Homo sapiens: one gene and its partners. The protein of the gene in region 5 purifies or fractionates together with the protein of the main gene of each other region. This does not show direct contact. Each region holds a gene or a part of one and is shown on either strand. Other genes may lie near its edges.

What was found.
Region 1: the proteins of LRRC73 (region 5) and CUEDC1 purify together in Homo sapiens (affinity purification with mass spectrometry; one large-scale study listed by BioGRID and IntAct). This does not show direct contact.
Region 2: the proteins of LRRC73 (region 5) and DNAJC13 purify together in Homo sapiens (co-immunoprecipitation; one large-scale study listed by IntAct). This does not show direct contact.
Region 3: the proteins of LRRC73 (region 5) and DAZAP1 purify together in Homo sapiens (co-immunoprecipitation; 2 studies listed by BioGRID and IntAct, with this or other methods). This does not show direct contact.
Region 4: the proteins of LRRC73 (region 5) and UBL7 purify together in Homo sapiens (affinity purification with mass spectrometry; one large-scale study listed by BioGRID and IntAct). This does not show direct contact.
Region 6: the proteins of LRRC73 (region 5) and KLHL24 purify together in Homo sapiens (co-immunoprecipitation; 2 studies listed by BioGRID and IntAct, with this or other methods). This does not show direct contact.
Region 7: the proteins of LRRC73 (region 5) and TMEM126A purify together in Homo sapiens (affinity purification with mass spectrometry; one large-scale study listed by BioGRID and IntAct). This does not show direct contact.

What each region holds. Positions count from the first base shown.
Region 1 is NC_000017.11:57,861,413-57,864,912, reverse strand, and holds part of CUEDC1 (CUE domain-containing protein 1), read left to right. Parts: intron 1-1,627; 3' UTR 1,628-3,500.
Region 2 is NC_000003.12:132,455,502-132,459,001, reverse strand, and holds part of DNAJC13 (dnaJ homolog subfamily C member 13), read right to left. Parts: intron 2,768-3,500; coding exon 2,601-2,767; intron 2,502-2,600; coding exon 2,422-2,501; intron 2,340-2,421; coding exon 2,170-2,339; intron 1,734-2,169; coding exon 1,634-1,733; intron 1-1,633.
Region 3 is NC_000019.10:1,410,586-1,414,085, forward strand, and holds part of DAZAP1 (DAZ-associated protein 1), read left to right. Parts: intron 1-3,500. UniProt on the Homo sapiens protein: RNA-binding protein, which may be required during spermatogenesis.
Region 4 is NC_000015.10:74,445,477-74,448,318, forward strand, and holds the end of UBL7 (ubiquitin-like protein 7), read right to left. Parts: intron 752-2,842; coding exon 614-751; 3' UTR 501-613; downstream 1-500.
Region 5 is NC_000006.12:43,507,547-43,511,705, reverse strand, and holds the start of LRRC73 (leucine-rich repeat-containing protein 73), read left to right. Parts: upstream 1-1,359; 5' UTR 1,360-1,920; coding exon 1,921-2,192; intron 2,193-2,785; coding exon 2,786-2,946; intron 2,947-3,285; coding exon 3,286-3,408; intron 3,409-3,779; coding exon 3,780-3,880; intron 3,881-4,027; coding exon 4,028-4,159.
Region 6 is NC_000003.12:183,649,123-183,652,622, reverse strand, and holds part of KLHL24 (kelch-like protein 24), read right to left. Parts: intron 2,328-3,500; 5' UTR 2,267-2,327; coding exon 1,347-2,266; intron 1-1,346. UniProt on the Homo sapiens protein: Necessary to maintain the balance between intermediate filament stability and degradation, a process that is essential for skin integrity.
Region 7 is NC_000011.10:85,654,005-85,657,042, reverse strand, and holds the end of TMEM126A (transmembrane protein 126A), read right to left. Parts: intron 2,981-3,038; coding exon 2,787-2,980; intron 1,450-2,786; coding exon 1,335-1,449; intron 735-1,334; coding exon 542-734; 3' UTR 501-541; downstream 1-500. UniProt on the Homo sapiens protein: Protein required for the cotranslational protein quality control in the inner membrane of the mitochondria.

The DNA of each region.
Region 1 (3,500 bases), on a different chromosome or scaffold from region 5:
GCTAATTTGTTTTTGTATTTTTAGTAGAGATGGATTTTTGCCATGTGGCCAGGCTGGTTTCGAACATCTGACCCCAGGTGACCTGCCCGCCTGGACCTCCCAAAGTGCTAGGATTACAGGTGTGAGCCACCGTACCTGCACCTCATCATTTATTTCTGTCCTAGGACTTCCAGCTTGTCCCCTTCCAGCTCCTTCTGCAAGTTGACATCCTCCTCCTCCTCCCCTTAAACACCAAGGGTCCTTGAGTCTTCCCTGCCATCCTCCTTCATCCACTGCAGGCTGACAGCCCCTCCCATCACTCGGATTGACTCGGAGGTCACCCAGCAGCTCAGGGCCTTAGCATCTTCTGCATTCTTATGGTGCTCTTCCACACGCACTCCCCTGATCTCTCCTGAAGCTGCCCTCCCTTGGCTCCTGTGACCCCAGGAAGCCAGGTTCTCCTTCCTCTCTCCTGGCTCCTGTTGCTCCGCCCACTCCCTAAATACTGGCTCTCCTTGTTGCTCTGCCCTTGACCCTCTTCGAAGTCTTCTCACTGCCCACTCTGGCAGTGCCTCCGCCCTCTTTTATAGCACCAGCAACACTTCTGCGCATCTGGCTCCTACATCTGAATCTCCATCGCAGTTAGGCTTCCAGAGCTGCTTCGTGTCCCCAGCTGCACCCAAGATTTTCTTTTCAGCCTTGGATAGCAACTCAGTCTCTCCTCCTGACTGCCCCCTTTCATTCTCTTTTCTATTCCTTCCATTACCACCCTGATAGATGCTCATCACCTAGGTCACAGCCCTGTTCTCTTCACTGCCCCTACCTACTCTGATTATCCCACCACCAAAACACCACTTTAGTTCCATTTTTCCTGTGCTCTTTGAATGAATCTTTTTTTTTCTTTTTCTTTTCTTTCTTTTTTTTTTTTTTTTTGAGATGGAGTCTCGCTCTGTTGCCCAGGCTAGAGTGCAGTGGTGCAATCTCCACTCACTGCAACCTCCCCTTCTCAAGTTCAAGCCATTCTCCTGCCTCAGCCTCCCGAGTAGCTGGGATTACAGGCACGTGCCACCCCGCCCGGCTAATTTTTGTATTTTTAGTAGAGACGGGGTTTCACCATGCTGGTTAGGCTGGTCTTAAACCCCTGACCTCGGCCCGCCTCAGCCTCCCAAAGTGCTGAGATTACAGGCGTGAGCCACTGCGCCTGGCCTGAATGAGTCTTCTGAGTAAAGTCTTAGGAACTCTTCAGCCTGGTGTCTGAGTCCTACCAAGTTCTGCCCCCAGTTTACTTTTCTCCACCTACAGGTCTTTGTGGCCTAGCTCCCCTGAGCTATGACGTATTAGAATGGGCCAGGTACCCTCCCACGTTGAAGCCCTCCCCTACAGCTGCTTCACCCCGGGATTCCATTCCTTCACTCCATCTCCTGCTGCCAGAGTCCCTGCAGCTGGGCAAGCTGGAATGGTTCTAGGAATTTGAATGGGGGGATGACCCAGGCAGAGTTCTACGGTTGACCTCGAGTCCCTGGAAAAAGGAGAGGGCTTACGTCTTTAGTAACTTCTCCCAAAACTGTCTCTCCAGGAACCAGTGACCAGGAAAGACCATTGGGCTCCTTTGAAAAAGATTCCTCCCATCCCTTTTTTCCCCTACCAGATGCCAGCAGCTCTTCCTTGCCAGAGATGATCTGACCCGGTGGGGGCAGCTGGAAAGCAACACTGGCCCCCAGCTGAAGGGCCCAGCTGCAGCCAGACAGATGGTGCTTGAGAACCGAGGCCCGGTGATCCTCCAGCCACAGTCCAGCCCAACCACTGCCACTTTCCATGGGACTTAGAACTTCGGAGTTGCTGCCTTGCAATTGGAGGAAGGACCTGGGGCCCCTATAGGCAGCAGCCAATTACAGCCCCTTTTGTAGCCAGGCGTTCCTATGGTCAAAGAGTGGAAATGCAGGAACCAACCTCCCTTTAAAAAAAAAAAAATCCAGAAAGCAGATAAAAGTTGGAATATGGAAAAGGGCAAGATGACCCCCACCAGAGGCTCTTTGGCCTGAAGGTGGAGTCTCTGCCTCCGTCCGTTCTCTATCTCTCCTGTCACAGACTCTGCCTGACCCCCTTTCCTCAGCTCCCTTCTGGTCCCCCTTCCTCAGCTCCCTCCGGGCACTTGTGCCCTTCCCTTCCATGTCCTCCTGTATCTCAGCCTTCCCCCGGGGCTGCTGGCCCAGCACACGAGCCCTGCACCCAGCCTGGGTGGGAGGTCCCTGGCCAGTCCCCCAGGAACTCTGAGGAGCTATGGGCTACTGCAAAGCATCTGCCGACTGCCCTGCCCCGTCTGGCCTCATCAGGCTGCTGCTGTTAGGGATGGGCTCACTCCCAGCAGCTCCCGGTCACCCAGCAGGGATGGGGAGGGTGGCCACCCTGGAGCTGGAGGACTCTGGGGAGGCAGGGTCTTTAATTTGGCAGCAGACAAAAGCCAGTTCTGGAGTCACACCACAGTAGGGGCTCACAGGGGCTCTGACTCCCCAGCTGGACTGGAAGCCCTGCTGTCCGAGGGTGGGCAGCGGTGGGTCCTGGAGTGACCCCTTTGAGCAGGTGCAGGGCTAAAGAGCAAGGCGGAAAGGCCGCCAGCCTGGGTGAGCGCCTAGGGCATAAGGGCTTGCTGGGTGCCCCTGAGAAGGGCGGGTGATCTGAGGAGGAGAACTCTGATTCTAGGAACGCTTACACGGCACTGACCACTGCCACGGGGAGGGAGGCTGCCCAGCCCGTGGCCCCGCCCTGGACATGGGAGCGCGCAGACCTTCCGGAGAGCCGGGAAGCCTGGGCAGGCACGAGGCTTCGGCGCGGCTCTGGGAGGTTGGGAGTGGCATCCGATCCTTGGCCGGGCCCTGGTGGCCTCCGTGGCCCCAAGATCACAAGGGCGTAGCGAAGGCGAGCCGGCGATCGCACCTCGTCCCGCCCACCCTGCCCGGACTCGCAACGCCGAGCTTGGGGAGGGCCGGGACGCGCAGCCGCCGCCGAGCGTGACCAAGTTTGGAAACGCGCGCGGGGCCGGGACGCTGGCTCGGGGGGCCCTGCCGAGGAGCGGTCGCCCCCTCCGCTGCTCCCCGCGCCAGGCCTGGGGCCCTGGAGGGAGGGGGGGGGGTCTCCGAGGAGTGCCTCGGTACCCCAGCTCGAGTTCTCGACGGGTCTCTGAGCCTTCCCCGCGCCAGGACCCGGCGCACTGTGGGGGAAGCCCCAGCCCCATGTCTGTTGAGTGTTGCTTTGTTATTTTTTTTCCTCCTATGTGTGGGTTTTTTCTTGGAGCTGTTTCATAGGAATTCCTGTAATAAACAGTTGGTGTTCTCTTGGTGCTCTGATGTGGCCAGCGGCGTGGGCTGGACCCTCCTGCTCCCTCCTCCCTCCCGGCCTGGGGCAGGGTTTGTCCCCAGGAGCCCCGCGTCGCATCCCTAGGGTACCCCTGCCTTGCCTGGCCCATTCACCCGCGGCGCTCTCCGACTGCACTCTCGAGGTGACACCTGCGGCACCGCTGCACC
Region 2 (3,500 bases), on a different chromosome or scaffold from region 5:
CAGCTTGACAAGGCCTGTTAAGGATAAAAATTAAAATTAAACATGAATATTATCCTCAGGAAGCTGACAGATTGAGAAAAATACATCATGTTTAGAAATAGCAATAATTCAAAGAAGAAATTGCTAAGAAAGACAAGTGTAATATTTATGAAGGGTAATCTCACTTCAGGGAGGGATACATCACTACCACCTTCAGGAATAAGAAAGCTCCATTTATTTTTAAAATTTTATTTTAATTGTTGTGGGTACATAGTAGGTGTGTATATTTGGTAAGCTTCATTTAAAAGCTGACTTGAGCTCTTAATGAATAAGCAGGGAAAGAATTCTGAGCAGGGAGAATACATGAAATATTAAAAAATATATACATTGGTCTCCATCCTTGGCTCCTGACATAGAGCACCTAAAACCCTTGCAGACAGGGGCACTAGCAGAATCTTTTGTTGCAACAGTCTTTTACCCTGGTTCCTGACACAGAGCTCCTAAGAACTTTGCAATTTCCTGATAGGGGAGCCTGACACAAAGCTCTCTACCATTAGAATTTCCTGGGTAATAGGAACATCTTTTGTTCGAATAAAGCAACTCTCCATATCATTGTTAAGTTCTAGTTATCTCACTACTTGTTTGGAACAGTAAATAAAATTAATTTGCTTTTGGGAATGCAAGGTTTTACAGAAGTATTTACTTATGTTTATGTACGACTAAGCTTGCCTAAAACACTTTATATAAGGAAAAGTCCCAGGTACTACACACAAAACTGAGATAATCAGAAACTTCAAAACTGTACTAAACAATTGTTTCTCCCTCTGTACAAGCTGCCACTAAGTTAGATCTTTACTGCGCAAACAGCTTTCAGGTGTGCTGCTTCTTTAGCCCTGTGACTACCCTAGCTCAGCAACTCATTTCTTACGTGACAATTTGGTCTACCTGCCTCTAATTTTACTTCTATTCTCCACATACTACCAGTGTGGGTTTTTAAAAACTCAAACCTGATCACATTACTGCTCTCTTGCTAAAAAAAATCCTTCAGGTGTTCCTTACAAAAAGATAAAAATCTAGCTCCTCCCTCCTGATACAGAAGGTTTTTTATTACTGTCTGCATACATCTCTAGCTGCAACTCCTAATTACCCCCCATCCATACCTTATAACCCAACCATATTTAATTATTTGTTGCTTTCCAAACATGCCTTTTTATATGCTATTCCCCACCCAGGAAGGCCTTTCCAGAGCTAGAAAATTCCTGCCTGTCCTTCAAGATTCAGATCAAATGTAACATCTTCCAGAAAGACTGGGTGAGAATCTTTCATCTTCCCCTCATCACCAAACAAAAATAAAGTGCTGCTTTTCAAGATCCTATGGCCCCTACTACCTTACCTTGTACAGATATGCCTACCTTACCAGACTGTCAACAAAGTGAGGAAGAAAAGAACTTCTGTCTTAAGATCTTTGAATTTCTGGCACACAGCACATTGCCTGGTATTTAGGATATGCTAAACAAAGGTTTGAGTAACTATGAGAACAATTTATGAAACAGAAACAAGAACTTATTGGTACAATGAAAATCTGGGACTGTGGAAATCAAAACCACCAGTCAACTTAAGAAAAACCAGTTTCCTTAAGAAAACTACTACTTACACACATAAGGGCACAAAGCATATCAACTGCTGCATGGATTATTCCGTTGTTGCTTCTTTTGAGTGCTTTTACTACCTTCACCCCTAGACGCTCGCGAAACCTTTTGGAACAAAAAACAAGCATATACTAGCAATACCAGAACATTTTAAATTGTTATATTATTGAAATAGATCATATTAACTTTCCATTGCACTACTGGAACAATGACGTATTTTAAATTCCACCTCTGAAATTTATCAGTCTTCATAATAGTTTTTTCTTTGAGAGGGAAAATATTTTTTAGGGTTAACTAAAACTAAAAGGCATGTAATTTCCCATTCAAATTCAAGAGTCAGTTATATTACTGGTGAGTATGGGACCAATATTCCGCTTCTGCTGCCCTCACCTTCCTTTTTCATTTCTCATGAATAAAGTACCATATCACCCTATAAAAGGTATCTGGTTTAGTCAAGGAAAAGGAGGTGAATCGTTCATTATTTGCCATTTTGAGTAGTTCAAATTCTCTAAGAGAAGTTAAGTTTCAGAAGACAACTTACTTTGGAAGCTGAGTGAAAGCCAGGAAACCAGCTTTGGATGCCACAAGCCTCCTCACAGCCTGGAACTGACTCTCAAGTTCCGCATTTGAAGCAACGACATCCCCTTCTTGGGACAGTAATGCTGTTATGGCATTATTGATCAGTTTTTCTTTGTTTTCTGAGAAGAGACCCTAGGTGAAGAAAGAGTATTTCAAAAAAGTTTCCATACCAAAAGTTAGTAACAATGAACAATTATGATAAAACTTAGCTTACATCTTGTGTTACTGCATGTAGGACTCCACTGTATGAAATATTAGCATTGAACCTGAATACAGCATCTGCAAAGTTGCCATCTGTAAAGAGATTAAGAGGTTCAAAAAGAAGATACGAATTCCTAATTCTTAAATTAAGTAGATGAGTGGAAATGTAATTACATTTAAATCAATACTTACTTGGAGGCGTAGCTAAGAACCTGAGGTGAAGGCTCTCTACTTCCTCATCAACAGGCATGCTGAGTAACCCCCATCGCTGACCTTTATGGGTTGGTGTCATTTTTACACAAACATCTCTATTACCAGAGGCTCTTACTCCATCCAGCAAACTTGCTAATAAGGAATCTCTAAGTAAGATTAAAAGTAAAAAAAGGTTTTAGCATTGATGATTAAGGGGAATTTTGATCTAGCATGAAGCATAGGCCCTTTAGCAGGTAATCTGCTCAGGGACACACTACAGTTACAATGGGAAACACAAACAGTGGGGCTTTAGGAAGAGCTCTAATACTAGCTCTTCACCGTGCTGCTACATGACCTTGTACAAGTTACTTAAACACTAATTTTAATTTCTCTTTCTCTCCCTTTAAAATTATTTTTAACAGCTTTACTCGGTTCTAATTGACAAATCACAAGTCATCCAATTAAAACGTACAGTTTGATAATTTTTAATAAATTTATACAACTGTATAATCATCATCAGTTCTGATATATTTTCATCACTCCAAAAAATTTCCTTGTGCCCATTTGCAAAAGAACACTCCCCAGCCCCAGGAAACCACTGATCTATCTCTATAGTTTTGCTTTTTAAAGAAACTTCATAAAAACAGAATTATAGAATATGTAGTCTTAGGTGTCTTGCTTATTTTACTTATCATACATAGGCTTTTGAGATTCATCCAAGTTGTTGCATGTATTAGGTCAGTCCTTTTTTATTGCTGAGTAGTATTCCATTGTATGAACAGGCAACATTTTGTCTGTTTATTCACTGGCTGATCTAGATATGGATTGCTTCTGTTTTTGGCTATGAGTAATGATATTACGAACATTCATGTGCAAGTCTCTCTGTGGGCATCTTTTCAT
Region 3 (3,500 bases), on a different chromosome or scaffold from region 5:
GAAGCTGACACAGCGCGGCCGGGGTCGCCACATCCTGTTGAGTAGCCGCTGGGTGCTAGGCGCCTGGGTGGTAGACCAGGTGTCAGGGATAGGGCCCATGCCTGGCCTACTGGGGAGAGGACAGAGGCTCAGAGGGGTCACCTCGAGCGCCCAGGCCATTGTGTTCTGCTGGCTTCCAAGGCAGCACACGGTCATGGAACTGGAGAGAGAGGTTTATGGAAGATTTTATCTGGTACACTGGGGAATGGTAAGACAGGGACACCTGGAAATATTGTAGGAAAGTCACAGAGGGAGGAAGGACTCAGCGGAGAGAGGAGAAAGCCGCCTCTGGGCAGCTTCGAGGATACCCAGGACTGTGGCCGGGGGCCATGCAGCTCAGAGCCAGGCCCATGGCAGGTCTCTGGGTTTATTGGGTGGCTGTGGAAGGAGACATCCTGAGTGGGGCTCCTGGCTGGGCCCCTAGAGGCCGTGACTACTTGTACCTGTGCAGAGTGAGCACAAGGCACCTGGCAAGATTGTTGGTCAGGCCAGAGAGGGCCGTGATCTGGGGGAGGCTGTTGCAGTGCGGGGAGTGATAGGGAACCTCATGGGGCCGTGCCGGCCTTTCTGGGGCTCTCTTGGTGCATTTGGAGTTATTCCGAGGCAGGTCTCCTGGGCTCTGTCAGCACTCTGGCCTGGATCACTCTGGGGCACCGTGGGCACTGCAGGGTGCTGGGCAGCACCTTTGGCCTCCATTCACTCCGGGTCAGGAGTACCCCCAGTCGTGACAACCACAAATGTTCCCAGACATCACCCAGTGTCCTGCTGGGGGGAGAGCCACTGTCTGGGAGCATCTGTGCTTTTGGCCTGGTTGCCCCTGCGCTGGGGGCCGCTGCTCCTTGTGGTTTATGGCTTGTCCTGTGTCGGCTCCTTTGATTCCTGTGAATGGGCCTTGAGGGTGGATGTGCTCCTGACTGGCTCGCCTTGGCTCCAATGGTCTGGAGCAGGCCGGTGTCTAGAAAGGCAGCAGCATGGACCCTGGCGCTTGCCCTTCACACAGCAGCTCCCCAGTGGCCCAGAGCTAGCAGCAGCGCGCAGCGTGCCCAGCTGTGCTTGTAGCCTTGGCTCTAACCCTTGGCTTTGCCAGAGAGACTGAGGCACAGAGGAGTTGAGGGATGGGCCCGGGGTCACCCCAGGGGGTGGAAGATCCGGAGCTGGGAGTCCACACTCCTCCACTGCCCGCCCCGCACAGAGGGCGCTCCTGGTCAGGCGGCTATGTTCATGGTGCGACCCGTCAATCTGAGGTTGTGCTGTCTTCTGTGAACTGAGGCCTTTTCCCATCCAGGCCTGGTCCCCGTGACACCATGTCATGATGTCAGAATCCCTGAGAGCTGTGACAGGGCTTTTGGCAGAGGCCAGTCATTCGACAGATGCTTATAGGCTGAGCTTCCAGCTTGGCTCCAGGCGTTGCCAAGGAGAACACTGGTCCGCCTGGGAGGGCGGGGCTGGCAGGGAGAGGATGAGGGTGACCACAGTTAGCACCCAGGATGTGGGCATTCAGGGGCTCCTTCAGCACACAGCAGCGCGTTCCAGTTCACGGACCGCTCCTGTGTTCTGTGGACCCCACACCCTGCAGGCGTGGGCTGGAGGGGGGGCATCTGACCCTGCTGGGGAGAGGGAGTCCAGGCTATGGAGGGGCGGGCTGGGCTCACTGGCCTGAGGCAGTGGGTGAAGTGGTCCTGGTTTCCCACCTGGTCTTAGGGGCAGGAAAGTCCCTAGAGGCTCTTCCTGATGCTCTGGAAGAAGAGAAGGGTTCCCCACACATCAGCCGCCACTGGGCCTGGACTTCTGCCTCTTGAGATTGTGCACGGAGCTGAGTGTGACTGGCGGAGCCCAGAGCCAGGTGGGGTCTGTGGGGAGGCAGGCTCCTCCTGGCTTGGTCCCCCGGCCCAGCAGGAAGGGAAAGGTCGCCTGCCAACTGCCCCCATTGAGGCTGCTGGCCCCGAATGGCCGGGCTGGCCGCCGGTTTTTGAAGCCCACTCTGGTGCTGCCAGGAGGTCAGGGCTCTTTGTGGTCAGCCTAGGCCAGAGGAAGCCTCTGCAGATGGACTTTACGCATAAATACCGCACAGGCACCCGAATGGCACGCAGCAAGCGAGGTTGCCATCCAAAACGGCTTTTGCTTTAACAGGCAGAAGAGGGTGGCTGCGCCGGCCACCGTGGATTGAGCACCTGCCAGGTGTCGAGCTGCAGGCCCTGGGTGCCAGGCTTGCAGATCCTGGGAGATGTTCATCATGACCTTTGATGGGCAGACTGCACGCTGGACTCCAGGTTGCAAGGGAAGAAGTGGAGCTCGTCCCACGCCTCCCCCACTAATGAGAACACCCCTTTTGGGTTTGTGGGGTGTGAGGTCTGTAGGAGCCACGACTTCCAGTGTCGGAGATGCCGTCAGCTGGGTGATGACTCTCCCACCCAGCGGGCCCCTCAGAGGCAGGGTGCAGGAGCCACATTGCTCACCGACCCCTTCATCTGCGTAGGCCAGTGTTGCCTTGCCCCGTTAACGTCCTCAGTCCACACGCCGCCAGCCAAGGTGCAGGCTGAGCAAGCCTGGAGCTGAGGACAAGCGGACCGCCAGCCCCGTAGCAAGCCCACGAGAGCCAGCAGCTCCTCCTTTTGGCCTCTGCCCGCGCCCGGCTTCCTGGACTCCGACGTTTACTTGTGTGAGAGTTGGTTCTGCTGCCTGGGCAGTTGATGGACAGTGTCTGGGAGGTGCCTGCCCAGGGCTCCGCATGTTTCTGATGTGCCGGCTTCTCACTCACGACCTGGTGAGGTTGGCAGCCAGGAGCTTTCTTATTTTATTGATTAAAACATCCTGAGATTCAGAAGTAGGGACTTTGTGCCAGGGCCCTGGAGGCAGTCCCTGCCACTGAAGAGATGACCCTGCTTTCCGGGACTTCCCGGAGGCTTCTGTCTGTAGACCAGGGAGAAGGTGTTCGCCGGTGGCTCCTGAGTGGTAGTAAAAGACACATGGACACAGGAAGCTTTAGCGTTAGAAGCTGCTCTCAAATATCTCAACAGAAACACACAGTGTGGCCGCGCGCGGTGCCTCACGCCTGTCATCCTAGCACTTTGGGAGGCCGAGGCGGGCGGGTCACCTGCGGTGGGGAGCTCCAGACACAGCTATGTGAAACGAAAGCTATCTGTTGCTGTCTCAGATTCCATAAGGACTGAGACTTGTTTCAAAAGAAACTGAAATTCTGTCTTGTTCTCAGTAATGAAAGTCTTTTATACCATAATTGTATATATAACTTCTGACTTACAGGAAAATTACAAAAATTCCCATATCCTCTTGGCCCTGCCAGACTCACCATTGGCTGACATTTTACCCTTTGGCACGTGGTGCCTCTTGCCCCACCCCCAGTGAACTGTGTGTGTGTGTGTGTGTGTGTGTGTGTGTGTGTGTGTGTGTTTAGATGGACCCTCACTCTGTCGCCCAGGCTGGAGTGCAGTGGCTTGATCTTG
Region 4 (2,842 bases), on a different chromosome or scaffold from region 5:
TCTGGAATCATTACAGAACAAGCATCAAAAAATGCTTGGTGAGAATAGACTGGTGGGGTGGACAAAGAAATCTGTGGAAGCCATTGAGAGAGAGAGAAATGTGGAAGGCAAGCTGCCTCCATGTGCTTCCCCTGAAAGTCCACCCAGCCACTCCATAGACTGGACATCTCGGAAGCATAAGCCTCTTCTGGGCACAGCTGTAATCCAGCAGCCACCCTGAAGATTGGGTGATAGCTCTGCCTAGACTTCGGCACATCCTGAGGCTCCCAAACTCCAAAGCCCCAGAGAGTCTGGGGGCTACGGCTGGAAACTTCTCCCAGAAGTTAACATGGGTATCTCACAGCATCCCATGATGTAGGGTCTAACATCCTCCATCCAGGGCCCAGAACTAGGGGCCAGCCCTGCTTTGATGCCACAGCATCAAGACCAGCACACCTTGTTTGCCCCACTGCCTCCACCAACTCAGATCAGCCAGAAAGGTCAAGAACTGGACAAAGCAGGAGAGTTGACCATCAGGTATATTGGGGAAGGGAGAGATGGAGGCACCTTCATGAGTGCCTCCCAAGGGCAGTAGCCTCTGCAACTTGCTGGGGGTTCAGGGGAAGCAGGGAGTTCATGGGGCTCCTCCAGCAAAGATGAGCTCCAGGGCTGCTTGGATGTCCCCACCGGTGGCCTGCAGGGCCCGCAGGCTCAGCTCATCGTCCTGGATGCCCATGTCACGTAGCTGCTGCAGCTGGGGCTGCCACTGGCTCTGTGGAAAGATAGGAATGGGCAGAAGCTGTTAGCTGGGATCCAGTGAAGACTCACTTAGGTCTGTGCTTTCCGGGGAAGGAAAGGAAGATGGGGGAGTCCTCAGCAAAGCTGCTGATGCTGAGTTCCACAGAACACGGTGCTTCTAGGAAGACTAAAAGATAGGCTTGAGGGTTAAGAGAACAAATCCAAAGTTTTACAATAAAAAAAGGAAATTCTTGGCATAAGGATCAAAAGAGAATGTACAAATTATTCACTGTCTGAATTCCAAGAGGCTAAATTACTTTCTTTCTCTTGCTATGTGTACACACACAACAGCAAGATTTTGCTCTTTATGTGATGAGTGTTACAGATTTTTTTCCCAGTTTGTTAGCCTTTGGACTTTGCTTCGGTTTTTTGTTTGGTTTGGTTTGCCACGCAGAAATTTTCACCTTTTTTTAAATGTCTTAAATTTTTGTGGTATATAGTAGGTATATCTATTTGTGGACTGTAAGAGATGTTTTAAATTTTTCGCTTTTACAAACCCAAAATGCATAACTTTTATTTAATGGCTCCTGGATACTGAGTTTCAGCCAAGAAAGCCCTTCCCTACTATAAGGATTTGAAGAAATTCACCCATATTTTCTTCTAGTACTTTCATAGCTTCATTAATATCTCTATTTCATGACAGCAGGGATGAGCACAATTTAGGGAAAACAACGTGTTCACATGTGGGAAGAAGGCAATGCAAAGGGGAAGAAAAGCAAAGTCAAAGAGGCAGGCAGTGATGAGAACATGGAGGGCTTAAAAAAAATGCACACAGATCAATTTGAATTCATTTTACAGGCCAGGTGGAACCAGTGAAAGCTTCTGAGCTAGGGAATAAAGTAAACAGGCATCTAGCAACAGGGGAGATGCAAGAATGGAGAAGACAAGTTGTTCACGAATCCTGCTTCTGTTCCCTCACTGTCTACAAGGACCACATGGAACAGTGAAAACCACACAGGCTTGAACCCTATCGTTACGACTTCATGGCCTTATGACCCCAGACAAGTTCCAGGGATGATGCTCTACCCATAGGCTTACTATGTGGAATAGAGGAAAACAGACGTGAACCAAACTGCTCATGCATGGAGCTGTGAACTACAATGCTGGCCCCTCAGGTATTCCACTTAGCTGCTAGGGTGACCTTTCTCCTCCTTAAAGCCTCCCATGGGCCAGGTGTGGTGGCTCACACCTGTAATCCCAGAACTCTGGGAGGCTAAGGTGGGTGAATCGCTTGAGCCCAAGAGTTCAAGACCAGGCTGGGCAACATAGGGAGACCCCCCCATCTCTACAAAAAATACAAAAAATTAGCCAGGCATGGTGGTGCATACCTGTAGTCCCAGCTACCCGGGAGGCTGAGGTGGGAGGATCACCTGAGCCCAGGAAGTTGAGGCTACAGTAAGTTGTGATCACACCACTGTACTCCAGCCTGGGTGACAGAGTGACACCCTGTCTCAATCAATCAATCAATCAATCAATGCCTCCCAGGGATCCCTGGTGACTGCTACATCAAGTCATCAAGTCTAATCTCCGCAGGTTGGCATGCAAGCCCCTCTCGTAGGCTCCTGCTCTTTCTCTGGCCCCATCTGCGGATCTTCTACACTGGACACTGCATCCTAGCCTTGTAGTTTTGAGTATGTCACATATACCTCCACACATGTGCACAAACAGGTAGCTGTCTTCACCTGGAAATCAGCCCCTTCCTACCTCAAACCCCCTTCCCTGGCTAGCTAACTTCTAACTAATTCTTCTGACAATCAGCTTAAATACCCCTCTCTCAGAAAAGTTTTGTCTGACCTAGGCCCTTACTTCAAGCAGCTGGGTTTCTTGCCTTGTTGCTCCCCAGCTCAGTGCCTGCCTGGTGCCCCTCCATGGCAGGGATGAGAACCAGCTTGCCACTAGCCCAGCATCTGGACTCAGGCCTAGTATACACATGCTCAGTCAATGATCACTGAATGAATGAATGAAATGGCCATGATTATCTAAGCCAGGTGGTCTAGGGAGTCAGGCCATGGTCACTAGGGGCAGGAGAAGCCTAGTGACCACTGTGTATGGTCTGAGAGTGTGC
Region 5 (4,159 bases):
CAGGCCAGACTACATAGAAGGCAGTGATTGAATATCACACCTGACCCATGAAGCGGCAGGGAGGCCTCAAGCACAAAAGCCATAAGCCTGATGGAACACTGCAGCCAGCTTGAGTCTGGGCTCAGCTGCTCTCTTGGGAAGCCAAGGAAGCAGTGACAATTGAACAAAACATCCCGACTTAAACCCCGTGTCAAAACAAGGATCTTCTGCACCTGGGCATTGTGTTGATAATTTTCCTGTGGAGCTCTTAATTGAAGCCAAATTTGGCTTTGCCTTGGTGGTACTGGGGCCAGCTCCTTTTAGTTTTTCTGTCTTTCCTCTTAAAACCAACCACCACTCCTAACATAGCACCATCCACCCCCACCACCTCTTTAATATGCTCCACTTAATAAGTTAATTCAGGTGGCTAAGAGTGGGAATAGGGCCTTTGACCTCCCTTCACTATATTGAATATTATATTTTATGTAAAATAATCATCTTAACACTAGTAAATCTGGGTCAGCAGCATCTATCCCTCCTAACAAAGGGACAAACAGAGGTGCCCTTCATTTGTCCTGCGTTACACAAGTGAGTCCCCCACCACCCTGGCCAGAGGACAAAGTTGAGACAGCACCGCCTGCACCGTGCAGTGTGGCTCAGCCGCCTTCACGTCCTCACCAGTGCTCCAGGGCCCTGGCCCTGGCACCTTCTTTGTATTGGCTGCCCCAGTCTCGCGGCACGGACACACCCTCAGATGTCAACAGTGCCCTGCGTACCTGAGAAGGTGTGGCACCAGGACCTTGCATCTATCTGAGGCTCCCCTGCCCTAGGGACCCTATGGGGTACCCTTCTCCCCAGCAGCTCAAGCTGGCTCTGCCCAGCCGTGGCCCCTGGGGCCTCCCTGATGAGGCCGCCATCTTGGCGAGGAGCAAGCGGGGAAGTCCCCATGGGCCGGGATCACCACGCACGCTGCGCCTCGAGTCACGGGGGCGGGAGCGAGGCGCGGCGCGGATGAAAGGGCCCTGGGGCCTTCCAAATAGGAGGGAACAGTGCCCTGGATTCCGGCGGGGGTATGGACCTTAGGAACGGGGAAGGATGGAAGAATGGGCAGAAGCAGCAGTAACCGTGCCCAACGCCATCTCCACGGGGCGTGCCTCCATTCCGCTCCCCGTCAGCCCTACCCACTCAGCCCTGCCGCCTGCCGCCTGCCAGTTGGCTGACCCCACTCCCAAGGGAAGAGCGGCCTATCGCTCCCAGCTCCTTGCCCCGAACCACCCAGTGTACGCGAACCTCGCGGGCCGGCGTGGCCTTGGCCGGGCAGGGGGCGGGGCGAGCGCCGGTGACGCGGCCGTTGCCATGGGAACTCGCCGCCCGCTCGCTCTCTGGAGCTGGAGCCGGAGCTGCCGCCAGCCGCCCGCCTCAGGCTCTCTCTGCCAGCCGTGCGGCCAGGCCCGCGGGGTGGTCGGGGGGAGCCGGGCGGCAGAGAAGGAGGGAGCGGGTACGGCCTCCTAGCCGAGACCGGTAAGCCGAAGCCCTTGAGCCGCTCGCTGCCGCTGCCGCCGCCGCCGCCGCGACCGCGAGGGACAAGGACAAGCGCCGAGCAGCGCCTGCCCAACCCCCGGAACGCGCACCCGCCCCAACGCCCAGACACGGACCGTGCGGGCCGCCCCCGCCCCAGCGCCGCCCCACTTCAGCCCGGCCCGCGCCCTGGACGCCTCCGCACCTCTGGCCGGCTCCGGCTCAGTCCCGGTAGCTCTTCTCCGCCCCCGCCGCAGCCTCCGCCGCAGCCGCAGCCTCCGCCACAGCCGCCGCCTCCACCCCCGGCCCCACTCCGCCCGCGACCCCTGCCGGGGCCCCGACCCCGGCCCTATCCCCGGCCCCGCCCGCGGCCCCACCAACCTCCGTTCCGGCCCCGTACCCGGAGGCCCAGCCGTGGGCACGATGCTGCCCAGCTCCATCCAGATTTCGGGGGAGCCGCTGTCCGGCGCCGAGGTGCGGGACATCTGCCGCGGCCTTCGCGACAACGCCGTGCGCCTGCTCTCACTGCGCGGCTGCCGCCTCTGCGACCGCGACTTTGGCCGCATCTGCCGGGCCCTGGCCGGGGCCACGTCCCTGGCGCAGCTCAACCTTAACCTGGGCGTCGTGTCCAGCCCCAGCCGCATCAAGCAGCTGGCTGAGGCTCTGCGGACCAACCGCTCCATCCAGTCCCTCTTGTGAGTGCGCCCCCTCGCAAGGGGGTCCCGGGCACTGCACCCTTCCATACACTCCCCTGGCACCTCCTGTTCCTCCACACTCCTTCCAGTACCATCCTACCTTCACATGCCTTATGCACATACACCGTGCCTCGGCCCATGCCTTCACAGCACCCTCCAAGCACATGCTTGGACTTTGCACGCGCGACCCTAGCCGTGTTGGGATACCCACCAGTTCCTGACATGAGGTGGGGGCCGTACCTCCCCACCTAATCATCTGCATTTACTTCACTGGGGCAGCTCCTTGGTTCCCAAGGGGGAATATCCCCGTGGGGACGAGAGCCCTGCCCACTGCAGAGTTCCGGTCCACCACCCACCCACCCCTTCTCTGCCCCTCCCTGTGCAATGTCCTGGATCCCTGCCCCAGAAAACAAACCGAATTCTCCCTCTATCTGTATTCCCTGAGAATCTAGAACTTTCCTTCTCCTTTTCCAGGCCTCTCAAGCGCTGTGACTGCCCTCCCCATACCTAGGGCTGACAGAAGTGAAAGTGCCCCTTTCCCATGTAGATAGTGCGGAGGACTGCAGTAACCCTGCTCTCTCACTCTCCTCCAGCCTGCATGGGAGCCCCCTGACAGATGCGGGGCTGGCCTTGCTGAACCCAGCCCTGGCCCTCCACCCTGCCCTCGTGGCTCTGGACCTGGGGGACTGCATGCTGGGTGATGAAGCCATCAACCTCATCTGTGGCCTCCTGCCCCCAGATGGGGCCAAATCTGGTGAGCAGGACCCTGTTGAGGGCTTGGGCTAGTGTGGCAGTGATGAAAATCGAAATGCAGAGGGAAGGGGGTGTGGCCCCAGAGCTCTGATGATGTGGGCGAGAACATCTTTCTACTCCTCTCAGGAAGGGGCAGGACGGGGGGCAGCATGGAGACTCAGGAATCCAGGCTGGGGCAGGCAGAGGAAGCATGGGCCTCCTTAATGGCTCTTGACCTCTATGGTGGGGGTAAGGTGGTGCCCAGCCACTAGGGACACCCCAGAGACACAGGGATTGTGGGGAAGGGCTGGAGGAGGGCTTAACCCTCCCTATTCTGGTTTCTTGCTATGATGCTGCCCAGGCTTGAAGGAGCTAACGCTGAGTGCCAACCCTGGCATCACCCCTAAGGGCTGGAGCCGCCTTGCCATTGCCGTGGCCCACAGCTCCCAGGTCCGCGTCCTCAATCTGGATTACAACCCCCTGGGTGAGGCTCAAGAATACCCCCTTGGGCTGTCACTGCCTCATGCCCTATCCAAGAGCCTGGGACCATCAGTTGACATGGTAACCCGTACACTGGGAGAGGGAAGAGAAACGGGAGCCCCCAGGGGTCAAGGAGATAGCTTTGTGGCGGACCAGGTGACCAACAAATAGATCAAAACATCAGTCACCACCCGTGGGCCTAACTTGCTTCGTGCCTTCACTCACCAATCACAATGATCCCTTCCTGACCACCACCAATTGTCCATGTTTCCTTGGCCAGGGATTAGTATCTAAAGTTGTTAAGGCAATGGGGAAGCTATCTGTAAGGATTAGCAGGCATGTGTATGAATGTGTGCACGTGTGTTGTCTCCCCAGGTGACCATGTGGCAGGAATGCTGGCTGTAGCTGTGGCCTCTAGTCGTACCCTAGAGGTCCTAGACTTGGAGGGCACAGGGCTCACCAACCAGTCAGCTCAGGTGGGAAGTCGTCATGTTTGGGCACGGCCAGGGGATGGGGTGGAGGTTAGTTTATGTGTCTGATGACATACCTAAGGCATGGCAGGTTGAGGTCTGAGGACCTGCCTTAACTGTGTTCATCCTTTTCCATATTCTTCCCCACTTCAGACCCTGCTGGACATGGTAGAAAATTACCCCACAGCTTTGCGGAGCCTGGTGTTGGCTGAGAACAGCATTAGCCCAGAGCTGCAGCAACAGATCTGTGACCTCCTCTCTGAGGGAGAGGAGGAGGAGGAAGTG
Region 6 (3,500 bases), on a different chromosome or scaffold from region 5:
TTTATGAGCTATGCTATAGTAAATTCACAGAAAAAATGGAGATGGCTTAATAATAAACCAATAATAAACTAATAAAAATACTAGTTTCACAACAATGTAAATATACTTAACATTACTGAAATGTATAATTAAAAATGATTAAGACAGTAAAGTTTATGTTATGTGTTTTTTACCACAATTAAAAAAAAACCAACACCAACATTAGCTTTGTTAGAAAAATATTAAAAGGATTAAAAGGATAATTTACTGTAATATTTCTCATAACAAGCATTTCTTGCTTATTCACAATAAATATTCCTTCCACTATTAAGGCATGGAGATTATTTTTCTATAGTTTATGAATTAAAATCGATAAGTATTTTATAGAAATAATATACTGGAAGAAGATACAAATATGCTACAATATTTAACTGCATTCTACCCCCTAAGCACACATTTTCCAAATTCTCTATAATGATGATGTAATTTTCACATTCAGAAAAAAGATTTTTTAAAATTGAGATTGACATTAAATATAATAACTGTGACAATTAAGTAATATTTGAGGCCTGGATTTTACATCTCAGAATTCACTCAATGTATACCAGCTTATTTAATTCACCTCTATATTTCATGCTTCTGTGTTAGGACAAAGGCCAGTCTGTGGATGTGCAAACATTTTTTTTTCTTTTTTTTTTGAGACAGAGTCTCACTCTGTTGCCCAGGCTGGAGAGCAGTAAGAGCATGGCTCACAGCATCCTCAAACTCCTGGGCTCAAGCAGTCCTCCCACCTCAACCTTCTGAGTAACTGGGACTACAGGTCCGTGCCACCATGCCTGGCTAATTATTTTTAGTAGCGATGAGGTCTCGCTATGTTGCCCAGGCTGGTCTCGAACTCCTGAGCTCAAGCGCTCCTCCACCTTGGCCTCCCAAAGTACTGGGATTATAGGTGTGAGCCCCTGTGCCCAGGAGCAAATTGTTTTTTTATAAGTAGAGGCAGTCCAAGAGAGCCTACTAAAATCTTAGCTACCCTGTATCCAAAGACTCTTTGGAAAGAAAAGTGGAATGGTTTGGGGCCCTACAAAGGTTAAGAGAAATTAGTAGAAATATGTTGAGATATGCACAGTTGCAAAGACCCTTTGCTACACTGTTTGATAGCACAAAACAACAATAACAAAAAATGCTACTGTTGAATCTAGAATTCACTAGGAAAGACATTCTAGTGACATATAATCCAAAATAAATCTAAAATTATATACAGCCACAGGTAGACAGTGCATATAAATGACAACACTGAGATTGCATTCAGGAGGTTTAAAGATATATTAAAAACTTTTGTTAACTATATTTGAAAACAGTCTTCTCACCTGCGTGGCCTAGTCCTTGGGGACATCATTTCATTCCCAAGTATGTGGTACCGTCTTGCTTCATGCAACAACTGATAACACTCAGGAGAATTCTGGATCAATTGGTCCACTTCAACTGTTTGAACAAAGTAGTTGGGATGCAACAGAGGGAGTCTCACATGTGTCAGGAGCTCGTGTAACAGTGGTCTTCTCAGATCAACGGCACGATAGACCCAACGCATGACGGCTTCAAAAACCATCTCCTCTTTACCAATAACAAGTTCATCACTACAAATATAATCAATAAGTTCATCTTTGTCAAGCTCAAGAAATTCTTCGTGCTGGGATACATCCTCAAAAGTCTGTAACGCAAAATTTTTGCATTTTGTGAAGAGTGTTTTGAGTGAATGGGTATCAGCAAAGCGCTGGATTCCTAAGCAATTACAAGGATCAAGTTGCTCCTCCAAGAACTTGGCACATGCATCACGGAGAACACTAATCTGAAAGAGGCTTGATGTCTCAAAGAGATACTGTACATTCTCTGTAGTGATCTTCACCTTTCCAGTATAAACATACTGCAAAAAACATTCCATAGCTTCAGCTAAAATACCATTGATCTCAACCAACATTTCTCGGCTTTCCCTGTGGTCATTACAAAACATAGCTCTGAAGTAGCTGCTACAGGCTGAGAGCACAGCTCTATGGCAAGGAAATTCTTTTCCTTCCACACAAATGATAACATCTGTGAATAAGCGGCTATCACGAAATTCATTAAATATCTGGAGTATGTTTTCGGCATGGGATGATCCTGAAGAGAAGTCAAAAAACTCATGACCTGTCAGAGATTTGGGGTCCATTTCAAAAACTTTTCGCTTAGTTGCTGGGGAATCACGCACCCCAAGATCCTCTCTGTTTAGTCTGCGTCCCAATATTAGTACCATTGTTACATCAGTTGACTATATAATTGTTGAGAAATGACTATTAGGGATCTTCTTTATGTGGCTAAAAGTAAAAAAAGGAAAACATTTCAATATGCAAAAAATTCAGTATTCAAATCACATAATTTCATTTTAATATAAACACTACAACAAAATCACATAATATATTTCATATAGGGTACACAGCACTATCTCATGTTAATAAAAACTAATCAACAAAAATTTGCATTTGAACAATTAGAACATTGGGGTAATTTGCAATAGTACTCCTTAAGCTCCCCTTTTCTAGCTGAAAGGATACTATGTACTTCGTGAGTTACTAATAACCTTCCGTTTCCTCCCCATTTACAGAGCTGAGTTTCATACTATTGACTGTAGAGTTAAGTCAGAATGGTGTAAGACACAATTTGACTACAGTTAGAATTCTAACAGTTATCTTTCTTTTTAAGAATCTTTTTTATTTTGAGACAGGGTCTCACTCTGTCACCAAGTTTGGAGTAAAGTGACATGATCATAGCTCACTGTAACCTCAAACTCCTAGGCTCAAGCGATCTTCCTGCCTCAGCCTCCTGAGTAGCTGTGACTATGTGTGCGTACCACCATGCCTGGCTATTTTTTTTTTTACTTTTTGTAGAGATGGGATCTTGAACTCCTGGCCTCAAGCGATCCTCTCACCTCAGCCTCTCAAAGTACTGGGATTACAGGCATGAGCCACCATGCCTGGTGAAATAATTATTATCTTAATATAGAATTCCTAGAGAGGAATTTAGCTATATCTATCAATAGCCTTTAAAAATATGTACATTGTTTGACCAGCAAGTCCTTTTTTTTTTTTTAGCACTCTCTCCTAAGGAAATAATCAGAATTATGTCGACAGATTTATCTATGCAGATGTCCAATGCTGTATTGATAGAAAATACTCAAAATAACCTAAATGCCCTATAAGAGGGGATTGGTCAAACCACAGTACATCTTCTGGCTAGAACAAAGTCTATGCAACCATTAAAAATTATATATGACTATTTAACGACATGGGGAAGTAGTAACCACACAGTAAGTGAAAAAGTAGATCACAAAACATATGCCAACAGAAAAAATAATGTATCTGTGAATCTAGGGATAGGATGTACATATGCTAAAATGTTTTATTTATCTTCTCTATTTTCTACCAAAATTTCTATTATAAAATTTAATATTCATTTAAAAAAATTTCATGCATGTTATCTAGGTCTTGTTC
Region 7 (3,038 bases), on a different chromosome or scaffold from region 5:
TAAACTAAAAATACAGCTTTCTAAATAAGGTGACTCGAAGTAGGTAGGTCTATATCATAATAGCTGAAGCTGAGCCTGAATGACTCAAGAAGATGATTGATTTGAGGAAGGTTGTTAAATCAGTTCTAAGAATCTATGGATTAATAATTTGAATTGAGAAAGTGAATTGTGAGTAACATTTGGTATAGTATATTGATAGATATTTTTTCATTTTTTATTCCTGTTTGTCATTATGAAGTCTTCAGTGTAAAATACTATATAGTTACTTTTTCCTCTTGTGTTACAGACCAAACTCAACGCCTAAGGTAGAACAAGCAAGGTAGAAGAGACAATACTGGGCAAACTCGTGAAGTTAAACTTGTTTAAGTGGGTAGCTTTTACTTAGATTCAGCCTTTTGTTGCCCTGTGTAGCCTTTTGTTGTAGGTCCCAGAATTATACCTCGTGATAAATTACAAGTCTATGTTTATGCATAACATTAGACATAACATTAGACATAAACTGTTTTTACCATTTTATTTTTGTTTACATATTTGTTTAAAATCAGTGAATTTCTTTGCCAGGTTCAGATAACTGAAGGGCCTTTATAAGTAGTTTATATTGTTCAGACCCAAGGTATGCTGAAAACATAGTCTGGAGCAAAATAGGAAATAACATCTTTCTAAAGACAGGCTTAGAAGTTCTAATCCAGTAACTTAAGATGTTCCCTTTGTGTGGTAACAGAGCTGATTGATACCTGTAAGAAAACATTGAGATAGTTCAATAGAAAAGATTGTTGCATCAAATGGCAAACCCATCTGTGATACATATTAGTCCTAGAAGTCTTAAGATAAAACTGAATATTAAAGTAAAGGTCTTCAGTGTCTATTAATCCTAAAAACTTTTGTTTCTTTATCCAGTTTGCTTCAAGGCTATAGCATAGATTGCTGATGCAAGAGTTCAACAGAGAATAGCCAGAATTATTTTAGAATAGAAGGCTAATATAACAGCTAGACATTTTCTGATGGAATTTTCCTTTAGTGCAAGTGTTCAAACTCATCCAAGATAATTGTTTATATGATAGAAGTTTCATGCATAATACTGTTTGCAGCTTTGTAGTTAGTTTAGTATTCAGTACACAAATTAAGGTTAATAGCCTAACTACACACCAAGTATAACTGTTTGAAATTCTTGATAAGTAGAATTTCATTATAAGAAAAAACAGGTCTTGCTAACTTCTAATCAAGAGGGTAACATTGCCTTTGGTCTAAATGCCTTAAAAACAAAATATATTTGCTGCTTTAAGTTGTGAGTTTTATAGGTAATCACATATTATAAAAAGTTTTTTATTTCCTACCTGGCTGCTAGACCACCATTTACAGGTATAGCCAAGAAAACAGGGTATAGACCACCAATAACAAGACCAGTCAGTCCACTCCGTGTTATGGTACAGGTTTCACAATCCAAATCACCTAGGAAATAAATTAGTCATAGAAATGAAGGTCATGATAGTCAAGCAAACATGATTTAAAGAATGTAAGATCCTCTTTTGTGTATCACAGGTATTTTTCAGGTAATATATCAAATGTAATTGTACAAAGCCTGTTAAAAGGTATAATTACATCTATGAGTAACTTAAAATAGCTAGGAATAATTGGTAAAACTATTTTAGGAAAAAAAGTTCTCTAATTTGTTCTCAACTTAGATATAATAATCTCATGGTTTGGGCTACTGCTAGCTTTCTGCCTTGTTTTTTATCAACAGACCTAGGCTAATATTTTCACTCAGTCTGTTCAATTAAATGGGCGATAGGTCTTCCTTGATCATAGAAATTGTTTCCACTGGTCATGGGAATTAAAACAAAATACTCGTCAAATTTAAACAAATTTGGAGCAGCACTTAACAAAATTTAGATGGACTGCCTTCCCTAGCACCCATGGTAATATTTTTATTTGAAATAATTAATCAAAAGTTTTTTTTATGATTAACTGTACTCAAAGTATTCAGCACACATGGTAGATTTTCAAAAGGAAATCAAATCTCCATGTATTTGATAAATGTATATGCATTTAGTGCTTTAAGAGATTTACTGTATAAAGAGTTATTCCCATAAAAATATTTTCCCCCTTTAAGGAACTTCTCTATAAAATATAAATAAAAAATCTAAGGTAGCCAACATATTATTTATATACATTTGTATATATATAATATTTCCATATATATAATTTTCATATATATGTATATATGGATTTCCAAATATTTCTTACTCTAAATGAGCACTGTGAGAAAGATATGTTAGAAAAAGGGAAGTATTGCCGGGTGCAGTGGCTCACGCCTGTAATCCCAGCACTTTGAGAAGACAAGGCGGGTGGATCACCTGAGGTCAGGAGTTTGAGACCAGCCTGGCCAACATGGTGAAACCCTGTCTCTACTAAAAATACAAAAAATTAGCCGGGCATGGTGGTGGGCACCTGTAATCCCAGCTACTCAGGAGGCTGAGGCAGGAGAATTGCTTGAACCCAGAAGGTGGAGGTTGCAGTGAGCCAAGATTGCGCCAGGGCACTCCAACCTGGGCAACAAGAGCAAAACTCCATCTCAATTAAAGAAAAAGTATTTAGAACTGCTGTGTATGTGCATCTTGGTTGGTAGACCATACTAATATGAATTATTTGCCACATTATATAGGCTAGCAAGATTTAATCTTAACTGCATTACAGCATACAGCTACTTGATATTAATAAGTATGGACTAAAGCTGCAAATAACATATACTAAGGCAAACTCTTTGGTGATAGTGAAGTAGAATTTACCTGTATTCAAAGGAAAACTTACAAAACATCTGTAAGTTAAGTCTGTTGTAAGAAAAGGTATCCCTGCCATTGGTAAGCCAGCAGCTATGCGAGCCTTTGTCACATTCAAGATGCGTCGAAAAAGACTGTTTGCTATGAGGCCACAAAGAGCAGCATTTAATCCAACATAAACCGATCCATTTTCAAGTAGATTCCTGAAAGGGTGAGAAGAAAGAACTTTTCTTTGGCATTATTGTGTGTGTGAGCTTTCCC